Linked DNA regions of Homo sapiens: region 1 is linked to region 2. Evidence: fine-mapped expression QTL. Tissue or cell type: whole blood. Region 2 holds a variant in brackets; the other region holds the start of a gene. All regions are shown on one strand. Distances are between the middles of the regions.

Evidence for each region. PIP is the estimated chance that this variant, and not a neighbour inherited with it, causes the effect.
Region 1: THAP3 starts here. The variant in region 2 is fine-mapped to the expression of THAP3 in whole blood (GTEx, PIP 0.96).

What each region holds. Positions count from the first base shown.
Region 1 is chr1:6,622,448-6,627,555 of GRCh38, reverse strand. It overlaps THAP3 (THAP domain containing 3), which reads right to left and starts at 2,688. Exons shown (of 6, transcript NM_001195753.2): 1 at 2,602-2,688; 2 at 2,264-2,406. The coding sequence starts at 2,337. It overlaps PHF13 (PHD finger protein 13), which reads right to left. Exons shown (of 4, transcript NM_153812.3): 4 at 3,526-5,108. RefSeq lists a silencer at 1,888-2,297.
Region 2 is chr1:6,588,531-6,593,599 of GRCh38, reverse strand. ZBTB48 (zinc finger and BTB domain containing 48) reads right to left here. Exons shown (of 11, transcript NM_005341.4): 10 at 4,756-4,844; 11 at 4,320-4,684. The coding sequence ends at 4,388. It overlaps KLHL21 (kelch like family member 21), which reads left to right. Exons shown (of 4, transcript NM_014851.4): 4 at 1-2,876. The coding sequence ends at 235. Among named protein-coding and RNA genes, the nearest start is that of ZBTB48, 11 kb to the right of the region's middle. The variant C/T (reference allele first, on the strand shown) is at 2,567.

The DNA of each region.
Region 1 (5,108 bases), 34 kb before region 2:
CCATCTCTACTAAAGATGCAAAAATTAGCCCAGCGTGGTGGCGCACTCCTGTGATCCCAGCTACTTGGGAGGCTGAGGCACAAGAATCACCTGAACCAGGGAGGCAGAGGCTGCAGTGAGCCGAGACTGCGCCACTGCACTCCACCTGGGCAACAGAGTGAGAGTCTGTCTCCAAAAAAAGAAGTTTGTTTTTTATGTCAGGAGTTAAATTTGAGGTGCTTTTTAGGCTCTCCATGTGCTGGGGTGACAGGCGGCCACACGCATCTGGAGATGTCAGTGTGGCGGCCAACCCTGCGGAACCGATAAGCCTGGGTGAGATGGGCCCCTGGGGAGCAAGTGTGGCTAGAAGCCACCCCTGGGCCATGGCCCACACCCCAGGGCTCCAACACTTAGTGCTGGAAATAAGGAGGATCCAGCAAAGGAGACTGAGAAGAGACACCTGTGGCCAAGAAGTGTACCAGACGCCATGCGGGAAAAGTGACCCAGGCTCAGGGGTCAGTTGTGTGAAATGCTATGCAATCGATCAGTGTCACAAGGCTCACTAGTGATGTGACAGAGCTCTCGTGGGAGTGGAGGAAACGACTTCAAGAGAGAAGGCGCAGCAACTCCATCCCCAAGTACATACCTGACAGAGGCAAAACAGATAGATGCACTGCAACACAAGTCCCACCAAAACTGGCCAAAACAATGTTTGTTTTGTTTTGTTTTTTGAGACGGAGTCTCGCTCTGTTGCCCAAGATGGAGTGTAGTGGTGCGATCTCGGTTCACTGCAAGCTCTGCCTCCCAGGGTCAAGTGATTCTCCTGCCTTAGCCTCCTGAGTAGCTGGGATTTCAGGTGCGCGCTACCACGCCCGGGTAATTTTTGTATTTGTAGTAGAGAAGTAGAGACGGGGTTTCACCATGTTGGTCAGGCTGGTCTCCAACTCCTGACCTCAGGTGATCCACCCAGCTCGGCCTCCCAAAGTGCTGGGATTACAGGCGTGAGCCACCACGCCCAGCCTCCAGAACCATGTATTTGTCATCCAAAAAATGGGGCCACCCAAATGCCCTTCAATTGTAGAACAAATCAGTAAATTCTGGCACTTGCATTCAATGGAATATTATGTGGCAACGAAAGCGAATGAACTGCAATCCACTCTGATAGCGGGCAGGATAGGGTTCCCTTTGGGCAGGAGAGAGGAGGAGGGCCTGGGAGGGGGTCCAGGTAGGGGTTCTTCTCGGGGGTAGTGATGTTTTATTTCTTATTTTGAGATGAGGTATCGCTCTGTCACCCAGGCTGGAGTGCAGTGGCAAGATTATAGCTCACTGCAGCCTCGAAGCTGGGTTCAAGCGATCCTCCTACTTCAGTCTCCCGAGCAGCTGGGACTACAGGGGCACACCACCTTGCCTGGCTAATTTTTTTAAATTATTTGTAGAGGTAGGGTCTCCTTCTGTTGCCCAGGCAGGTCTCGAACTCCCAGGCTCAAGCGATCCTCCCGCCTCGGCCTCCCAAAGTGCTGGGATGACAGGCTTGAGCCACCGCGCCCAGCTGGTAACGTTTCAGTTCAGTGACGTTCACTTGGGGAAAACTCGCTGGGCTGTATACTTATGATTCGTGCATTTTTCTGCATGTACATTACGTATACTTCAAGCAAAGCATTTATCACAAAACAGAACAATGGGAGCAGAGGGAATGGGAACGATGAGCACAAGCCCCCCTTCGGAATGTGCCCAAAAGTGGGTAGAGAAATGGTGCCGTGACTGGACCTTGGAGAAAGCGCAACTGTGACTAATGACGATTGCTCCTGGGCCGGGCCGGGCCGGGCCGGGCGAGTGCTGGAGCAGACTCCAAAGTCTCCAGCGTCCTCCCGCGACCCTGCAGAGTCCCTTCCCACTGCCAGGACGCCCCTGGGGGTTCCACTCCTCCACTGCACTGCCCAGGTGCCGGGCTCCCTTCAGGACCGCGCGCGGCGGGGGCTGCAGCGACCAGGGACACAGCAAACCCCGGCCGCGGCCCGCTAGTCTGTTCAGCAAACACCTGCTCCGCTCCCTGCACGTCCCGGCCCTGGCCCCGCCAGGTGCGCCGCTGCCCCTCCGTCCGCCACTCCCCGCATCCCCGCGGCGGGCGCGGCGGCGCCAGCCCCTCTGGGCCCAGGACCTCGGCCTGTCCCCGGGCCCAGCGGCCGCACGCCTTTGGGCCTCCCGCCCGGCGCGCCAAGGCCTCGGAGTCGGTCCGCGGGCCCCGGGTCTGGGCCTCCCGCGCCCCCGGGTCCCCGCCTCTTACCGGTGGAAGGTGAGCTGCTTCCTGCGGCTGCTGTAGCGGTTGCAGCACTGCCGGGCCGCGCACGACTTCGGCATCTCGAGCCAGGCCTGGCTGCCCCCAACAAAGATGGCGGCGGCGGCGGGGCCTGCGGAGAGGGGAGGGACCTGCGGGGAGGGGCGGGGCCGCTGGGAGGTGGTGACGGGCCTGGCTCGCCTCCAGGGCGCGCTCATCCTGCCATCCCAGCCACCCGCGTCTCCCCAGGGTCGGACGGGACCCGGGGCGCCACGTAAAGGGGTGCTCCGGGCCCCAATTCAGGCCCGAAACCCCAACTCCTAGCCTTGGGCCTGTGCAAGTCTTACCCCATTCGCCAATGCTGGTCGCCTTTCACCTCCTTGCTTTGAGCACCCAACCAGGACGCATAGCCACTCACAGGCTTGGACAACTGGAAACCAACGGCCAACCCCTCAGTGTTTTTAGGGCTTTGAATTGTGAATAGGTCTGGACTCCTCTGACGTCACTGGAGGTGGTACTAGTTGGCCACTGGTGGTGTCAGTTCAGAGGCCAGACAGCTCACTGCCCTTAAGTTTGGTCACAGGGAACCCCCAAACGTGAAGAGGCAAAAAGGGCAACTGAAGGGGAGGGAGATTCCAGTTCAGGCCTTGCAGAAACTCCGAGGCTGCAGCTTTCTCAAAGCAGCCTATAGGGAAGGCGTCATCTTGTAAGAAGAAAAAAAAAAAAATCGGCCAGGCGCAGTGGCTCACGCCTGTAATCCCAGCACTTTGGGAGGCCGAGGCAGGCGGATCACCTGAGATCAGGAGTTCAAGGCCAGCCTGACCGACATGGTGAAACCCCATCTCTACTAAAAATACAAAAATTAGCCGCACATGGTGGCGGGCACCTGTAATTCCAGCTACTCGGAAGGCTGAAGCAGGAGAATCTCTTGAACCCGGGAGGTGGAAGTTACAATGAGCCAAAATCTCATCACAGCACTTCACAGCCTAGGTGACAAGAACGAAACTCAAGTCTCAAAAACAAAAAAAAAATCAAAAGTAGGCTAACCACTCACTGGGGCTTGAGCTAATCCTCAATCTGATGAAGAAACTGCAAAAACCATTCACATCTACTCGTCCTGTGGTTTGTTTCTAAGGAATTCACCAGCAAGGTACCTTAACACCGTGGGCATTTTCCATCCTGCTAAGTGCACACTGAGACGCTGCCTTCCCAGAGACTTGATGTAATCATGCTTTGGGGAGGTAGCAAGGAGAAAAGAAACACAATTGTCCTTCAGCACAGAACGCAATCGCCTGAACCTTGAATCATGAACCTCAAAGTAGCAATATATTTATTTACAAAATATACAGTTTCACAGAAACAGCTTCGCTTTATACACATAAACTTTAAAATTACACAGAACCATGTAAACGATGTGAAGTGTCTGGCCTGGCCAAAGCCAATGGGAGGGCCTACTTTTGGGGTGACATCCCTCCCTCCCCTCACTTCATTAGCCACCAACCAGGAACCACAGATGGGTCGTGCCTAATTTGCATATAAAGAAGCTGATTGCAGCTGCCCAGCTCAATCTAACACAAAAACCAAGGTGTCCGACTTCTTAGACACCACCCACAGGGACAGATCTGCTAAAAGAACAAAAATGCAATCAAGGAAACAAAATGGAGATGAGTATCACATGCATTCCAGAGGCATCGAACCTTCTAGCACACGTGACAGTTGCCAGGGCCGGCAGTTCCATTCTAAAGTCACATGGATTCTTAAATGCACCTTTAAAAGCTTGTGGAATTTTTTTTTTTCAAAGCAGAAAAACACTTTGGAGCGCTGGTTATTCACGTGGTGAAGACACTGGACAGGCGTTATCTCAGGGTAGATCTTTGGCAAATTCCTCTCCAATGCGTCCTGGCTGTTTGCCCTCGTCAGTTTCTAAACCAGCTTACTATTTTTCTCTACCGAACCTCCCCCTTGGGGATCTTCACAATAAACTGGCTTCAGAAACTATTTCTCTCTAGTTTCGTGTTAATACAAGCAACAGAACTTTTAAAAAAATAAGACGGTTGGACAAGTGTGAAAGATACTAGGACAAAAAAAATGCCTCTGATTAGCCAAATTACGGTTCAAGCCCCTTGGTGCTTCAGTGGGAGAAGGTGGGAAGAGTCTGCCTGGTGGCCTGGCACAAAGGTGCCACATGAAGGGGAAGCCCCCAGCAGTGAGAACGCGGGCCCATCCCACTGAAAACAAACATGACTTGCTTGAGCATTCTTCCCTTTCCATGCCTTAAAGAAACAATGCTTATGAAAACCTACCAATCAATTAGAAAATGTTTTGAGAACAAGTACTTGAACTGCTGAAGAGCAGTGTTCATTTCAGAGAAAGCCGGAGCCCCTCTCCCTCCCAGCCCCAGAACTACCAGTGTTCCAGGGCACCCTGCCCTCGAGCAGAGTTCTTCCACAGCCTCCGGCATCAACTCCCAGGTTTTTCCAGAGCTGGCCCTCACAGGGGCCTCCCAGGTCCAGGATCCCAGCTGAGATTTAAGGAACTCGGCACAGTTCCAAGGGGTCATCCTGAAGGCCCATGTTACCCTATCACTCACTCACCAACTCAAAACAGAAAAAGAAAGACTCAAGTCCTAACTGTACCCTGTGGAACCGGCAGGCCAGCCTGTCTAAAGGGCACACAAGAGTCACCCAACGGAGAGGGCTCCCTCCCAGCTCTCCTTTACCCTATTCTTTGGAGGAACACCATGCGGGTCCCAGTGATTGCCTAACCTTTATGCTGCTACCAGAATGAGGTGAAAGGAAGAGACAAAGACAGAACCTATGAGTTCCCACACTCGCAAACAGCTGGCCTGAGCCCA
Region 2 (5,069 bases):
CGACAATACATTTGAACTCTCGGACGTGGTAGAGGCCTATGACCCAGAGACTCGCGCGTGGAGCGTGGTGGGGCGGCTCCCAGAACCCACCTTCTGGCATGGCAGTGTCAGCATCTTCCGCCAGTTCATGCCCCAGACCTTCTCGGGTGGGCGTGGCTTCGAGTTGGACAGTGGCAGCGATGACATGGACCCAGGCCGACCCCGGCCGCCGCGGGACCCCGATGAGCTGCACTAGCCCCAGTCTGGCCCGGCACGGGCCTCGGTGCAGGTAACTGGCACCTCTGCGGGGCAGTGCCCCACTCCTTTGTGCACAAGGACACGTTGGGCTCACAGGAGGAGCACAGGCTCTTGGGTGGCGAAGCCAGCCCAGGATCCATTACCTGGAAGGTTTCTGTACCTTGAGAGCCTGAATCAGAGGCCGTCGGGAACGCCCTCCCTGCAGTTGAGGAAGAGCCACTTTCCTGCCAGCACATGTTTCTGGGTCTTGGAGGTCACCCCCACCCCGCGGATCACAGCTCACCCACGCGGCGCACACCCCTCCTGCCGTTGTCATCTGCACCTACTTGTTCCCACCTTGGGAGAGGACGATGACTTGGGAGGGACGCGTGAAGGGAGAAGGGGTCCTCCCATGAGGCTGAGGATGGCCTGAACCTGGAGCAGCGGACCAGGCAGACGGGCTGAAGTGGGGTCCCAAATTCCATGTCCAGAGGTGTGGGGAGCCTGCCTCCCTAGCTCCTGGCCCCTGCCAGGGGCTTACATCAAAACACCTCAGAGGGCTGCCCTCCAGAGGCTGCACCCAGAACAGTGGGACATGAGCAGGGGTGTGGGCTTGGAGGGTGAAGAGGATGTGGTCCTATCAGATGCTGGGCCTCCTCAGCCATAGCCCCCTGCTCCTACCCCCTGACTGGCTCTTGCGTCCTCACCTCTCACCCTCTCCTTCCCGGGAGGCCCTGGGAGGTGATCATTGACACCCAGCCAAGCAGACAGCTGCGGGTGCCCAAGCCCTTGCTGGGCCTGCGCGTGAGGAGTCCCACTGCTTCTAAAGGAAGTCCTGGGCAGGAGGTGGCTTTGGTGGTTGGTTCCAAAGTTGAAAATGCTTGCAGTTTGACCTTAGAAGAAGTGGGAAGAAGAAGGAGCTCTACAGGGTCAGCTTTGTTTGATTTGTCCAGTCTAAGAAGTCCCATTGCCAAAGCTTTCTGCAGGAGGGTGAATGCCGCAGCTTGGCAGCCCCTGGGTTTCTCTTGGAAATGGTCAGTTTCCCCTCAAAGTACCCAAAGTAGCCTTGGCTTGAGTTTTTGTCCTTGCCTCCTTTTTAGAGAAGAGGGCATTTAGACTGCATTTTCCTGGTTAAAGAAGGTTAAAGCAAATGTTTATTGCCTTTTCTAGTGAACTAACTCGTAGAGATGTTCTCAGCAGGAAGACAGTCTTAGCACTGTCACTTAGCAGATTGCACTTAAGTCCCTTGTGCTGGCCAGATGGCGTGGCTGGTTGCCTTAATATGTCCCAGGACCCCTGACAGGGCTGCCTGGCCTCTCCCTCGTGCTCCTCAAGAGCCCAGTCCATACACTGTGGATGTCATTGCTGTCGGGTTAGGAAGTCTTGTCCTAGAACGCCCTGGCTGGTATGACCACAGTTCATGGCGGCTCTTCTCGCTTGGGTCATGGTCATCTTCCAGCACCTGCTGTGCTGGGAAGGCCGAGGATGGGGGCCCAGCACTGTCCAGGCCTGCTGGGGCCTGGCTGGGAGTCCTGTGGGCAGCATGGAACATGCAGCTGGGCTTCCTGTGACCAGGCACCCTCTGGCACTGTTGCTTGCCCTGTGCCCTGGACCTTTTCCTGCCCTTCTCCTTCCTCTGCTCCCTTGGGGCTACCCCTTGGCCCCTCCTGGTCTGTGCAAACTCCCTCAGGGAGCCCCCCTGCCCTGTAGCTCTCGCTTAACTTCCTAGGGGCTGCTGAGCCCACCCAGAGGTTGTTGGAGTTCAGCGGGGCAGCTTGTCTCCCTTGTCAGCAGGGGCGTAAGGGCTGGGTTTGGCCATACAAGGTTGGCTACGCCCTCAATCCCTGACCGTTCCAGGCACTGAGCTGGGCACCCACGGAAGGACATGCTGTCCAGACTGTGATGACTGCCAGCACAGGGCATCTCGGGCTTGGCTGGTCTGCGAGGCCTTGCCCCTGTGGAACTCTGGGTTCCTGTTTTCTCAGTCTTTTTTGCGGCTTTGCTGTGGTTGGCAGCTGCCGTACTCCAGGCTTGTGTCGGCCACTCAGATGAGGGCTGTGGTGCGAGCCAGTGCAGGAGAGCTGCGCTTGGGATTGTGCCCTCTCCTGTGTCTGTCCTCCGGACCTACCCAGGTCTCCACCATCAGGACCCTGTCTTTGGGTTTAGAAGACCAAGTATGGGGAAAACCAGGCACCAGCCTCTGCAGCAATGGGTCCCTCTAGCCTGTGGACACCAGCTGGGGGATCCAGGGTCAGGCCCCCTCCTCTCCCCAGTTTCCCTCTGCTGTGGGTTCTGGGCTGTCATGTCTCCACCACTTAAGGATGTCTTTACACTGACTTCAGGATAGATG[C/T]TGGGATGCCTGGGCATGGCCACATGTTACATGTACAGAACTTTGTCTACAGCACAAATTAAGTTATATAAACACAGTGACTGGTATTTAATGCTGATCTACTATAAGGTATTCTATATTTATATGACTTCAGAGACGCGTATGTAATAAAGGACGCCCTCCCTCCAGTGTCCACATCCAGTTCACCCCAGAGGGTCGGGCAGGTTGACATATTTATTTTTGTCTATTCTGTAGGCTTCCATGTCCAGAATCCTGCTTAAGGTTTTAGGGTACCTTCAGTACTTTTTGCAATAAAAGTATTTCCTATCCATTTGGAGTCATTGCCTTTGTCCTCCTGCTACTGTCTTCTGGGACTCTTGGGCTGAGGACAGATGTCAGGGGAACAGGCAGCATGGAGCCCAGGGTTCACACTGAGGGTCTTAAACAGCCTTCCAGGCCCTTTCTCATCTCAGATTGTAGCAAGTGATGAAGCGTTGGAAAAGACATGCCCCAGAGGCTGGGTGTGGTGGCTCACACCTGCAATCCCAGTGCTTTGGGAGGCTGAAGAGGGAGGATCACTTGAGCCCAGGGGTTCAAGACCACCCTGAGCAATACGGGAAGACCTTGTCTCCATTTAAAGAGAGAGGCCTGAGAAGTAAATGCTGTGGAACAGATGATGCCCAGGAAACCTGCCTGCTCCAAAGCTGGTCTTTGCCTGTTGGTCCTCTGCCCGGGCCCGGCTCCCACAGCCCTTCTTGAGATTGCGGTACATACAGGTGGTGATGAGACTCCCATCTGCGATGAGATGGCCCTTGGACCTGGGGAGGTGGAGCCCTTCAAATACAGTCCCAAACCAGGCTGTGAATCCACACAAGCCGTCTGGCTCAAGATGTTTTTCCTATCTGCAGAGTCCATCTGAACCTGAGGGAGAGGCCAGTGTCTCGGCTGGGAAGGAGAGCAGTGTTGAGACCACAGTGGGCCTCTTTTTTTTGTTGTTGTTTTTTAAAGACAAGGTCTCATTCTGTTGCCTAGGTTGGAATGCAGTGGTGCAATCTCGGCTCCCTACATCCTTCGCCTCCTGGGTTCAAGGGATTCTCGTGCCTCAGCCTCCTGATGCACCACCACACCCAGCAATTTTGTATTTTCAGTAGAGAAATGAAGCTGTCAGTAACTTACCCAGGGCCAACTTAGTTGGGAAGAAATTTAAACAACAGCAATCTGCTCTAAGGCCCACGTGCATTTGCTCCTTGCCACACAGTACCCCACAGCTATAGAACGTGGGGACCAAAGCCTCCTGGACACAGACCAGGCTGCTTGAAGGAAGGGCCCCACCCTCCTCAGACCCCCAGGCGTGCTCAGCTACACTAACTGGGCCCAATCCTTGATTCTGCCCAACAAGGCCAGCCCCGTGGGCCCTGATCACTCTACTGAACTCCAGAAGCTTAGTAATGAATTCTATCTCCAGAAGCCGGTATCACCTCAGCTCTAAAATAGGAATACTGGTGCTCTAACTGGCCAGCGTTCCCCACTCTAAAATCCTGCAGTAATGAGGAACAGAATACAGATGTGGAGAGCAGCCAAGGCCAGAGGTTTGGCCCCCAAAGGAACCCCATCCAAGCCTCGCTCAGCTGAGGTTTCCTGACAGGAGGGGAAGCTGCCAGCTGAGCTGAGGCCCACATAGGACCGGGCAGGGCACTACTCTCTCCTGAAGGCGTGGGTGGGAAGGCAGCACTTCCCCAACTCCAGGACACGGGAACAGACTGTCAGGCTGAAATACGAGAGTCCAAAGCCACACGGTTTATTGAGGGGTGGGGCCAAGTGGGCTCTGGTGGCCAGAATGGGCTATGTGTCACAGTCCTCGGGGACAGCAGCTGTGATGATGAGGGAGGGCTCCAGGACACCTGGGCCGGTGAAGCTCTCCTCTGCACACAGTCTCTGGCCGGGGAGCTGGGAGGCCAGGCCGCCCTGGGCCAGGGACTCCACAATGACCTCCGCCGAGCCCACCTCCAGCTCTGCAGGCGGCTGCAGCGCCACCACCACCATCTTCTCGTCCTCGATGATCAGGTTGCGGAGCTTGCGCTGCCGCGGGTTGTAGTTCTCTACCCGGTCGTGGATCTCCATGTGCCTCCGCAGGTGGGCCTGGCGGGGAGGGTGAGCTCAGAACTTTGGGGGATCCTAGGGTAGGGGAAGGGGCCCAGGCCCTGGCCTACCTGTCGGGTAAACTTGTAGCCACACTCGGTGCACTCAAACTTCCTCACCCCCTTGTGCCGTCTGACGTGCACACGCAGTTGCTCCACGGCTGCAAGAGGGAGAACACCGTGGGGGATCATGCAGGAGCCCCGGGACCCTCGAGGAAACCCAGCAGGAGGTTGGGACAGGCAGCAAGGGAGGGGACCAGTGGTTTACAAGTGCTGCACAGGCCCTGCCAGGCTCTCCAGTGCCACCCAGGGTCACTACTGCACAGGACACCCCTGCCTTCAAAGCAGGTCCACTCTCAACTCTAACCATGTGGGGCACAAAAGAG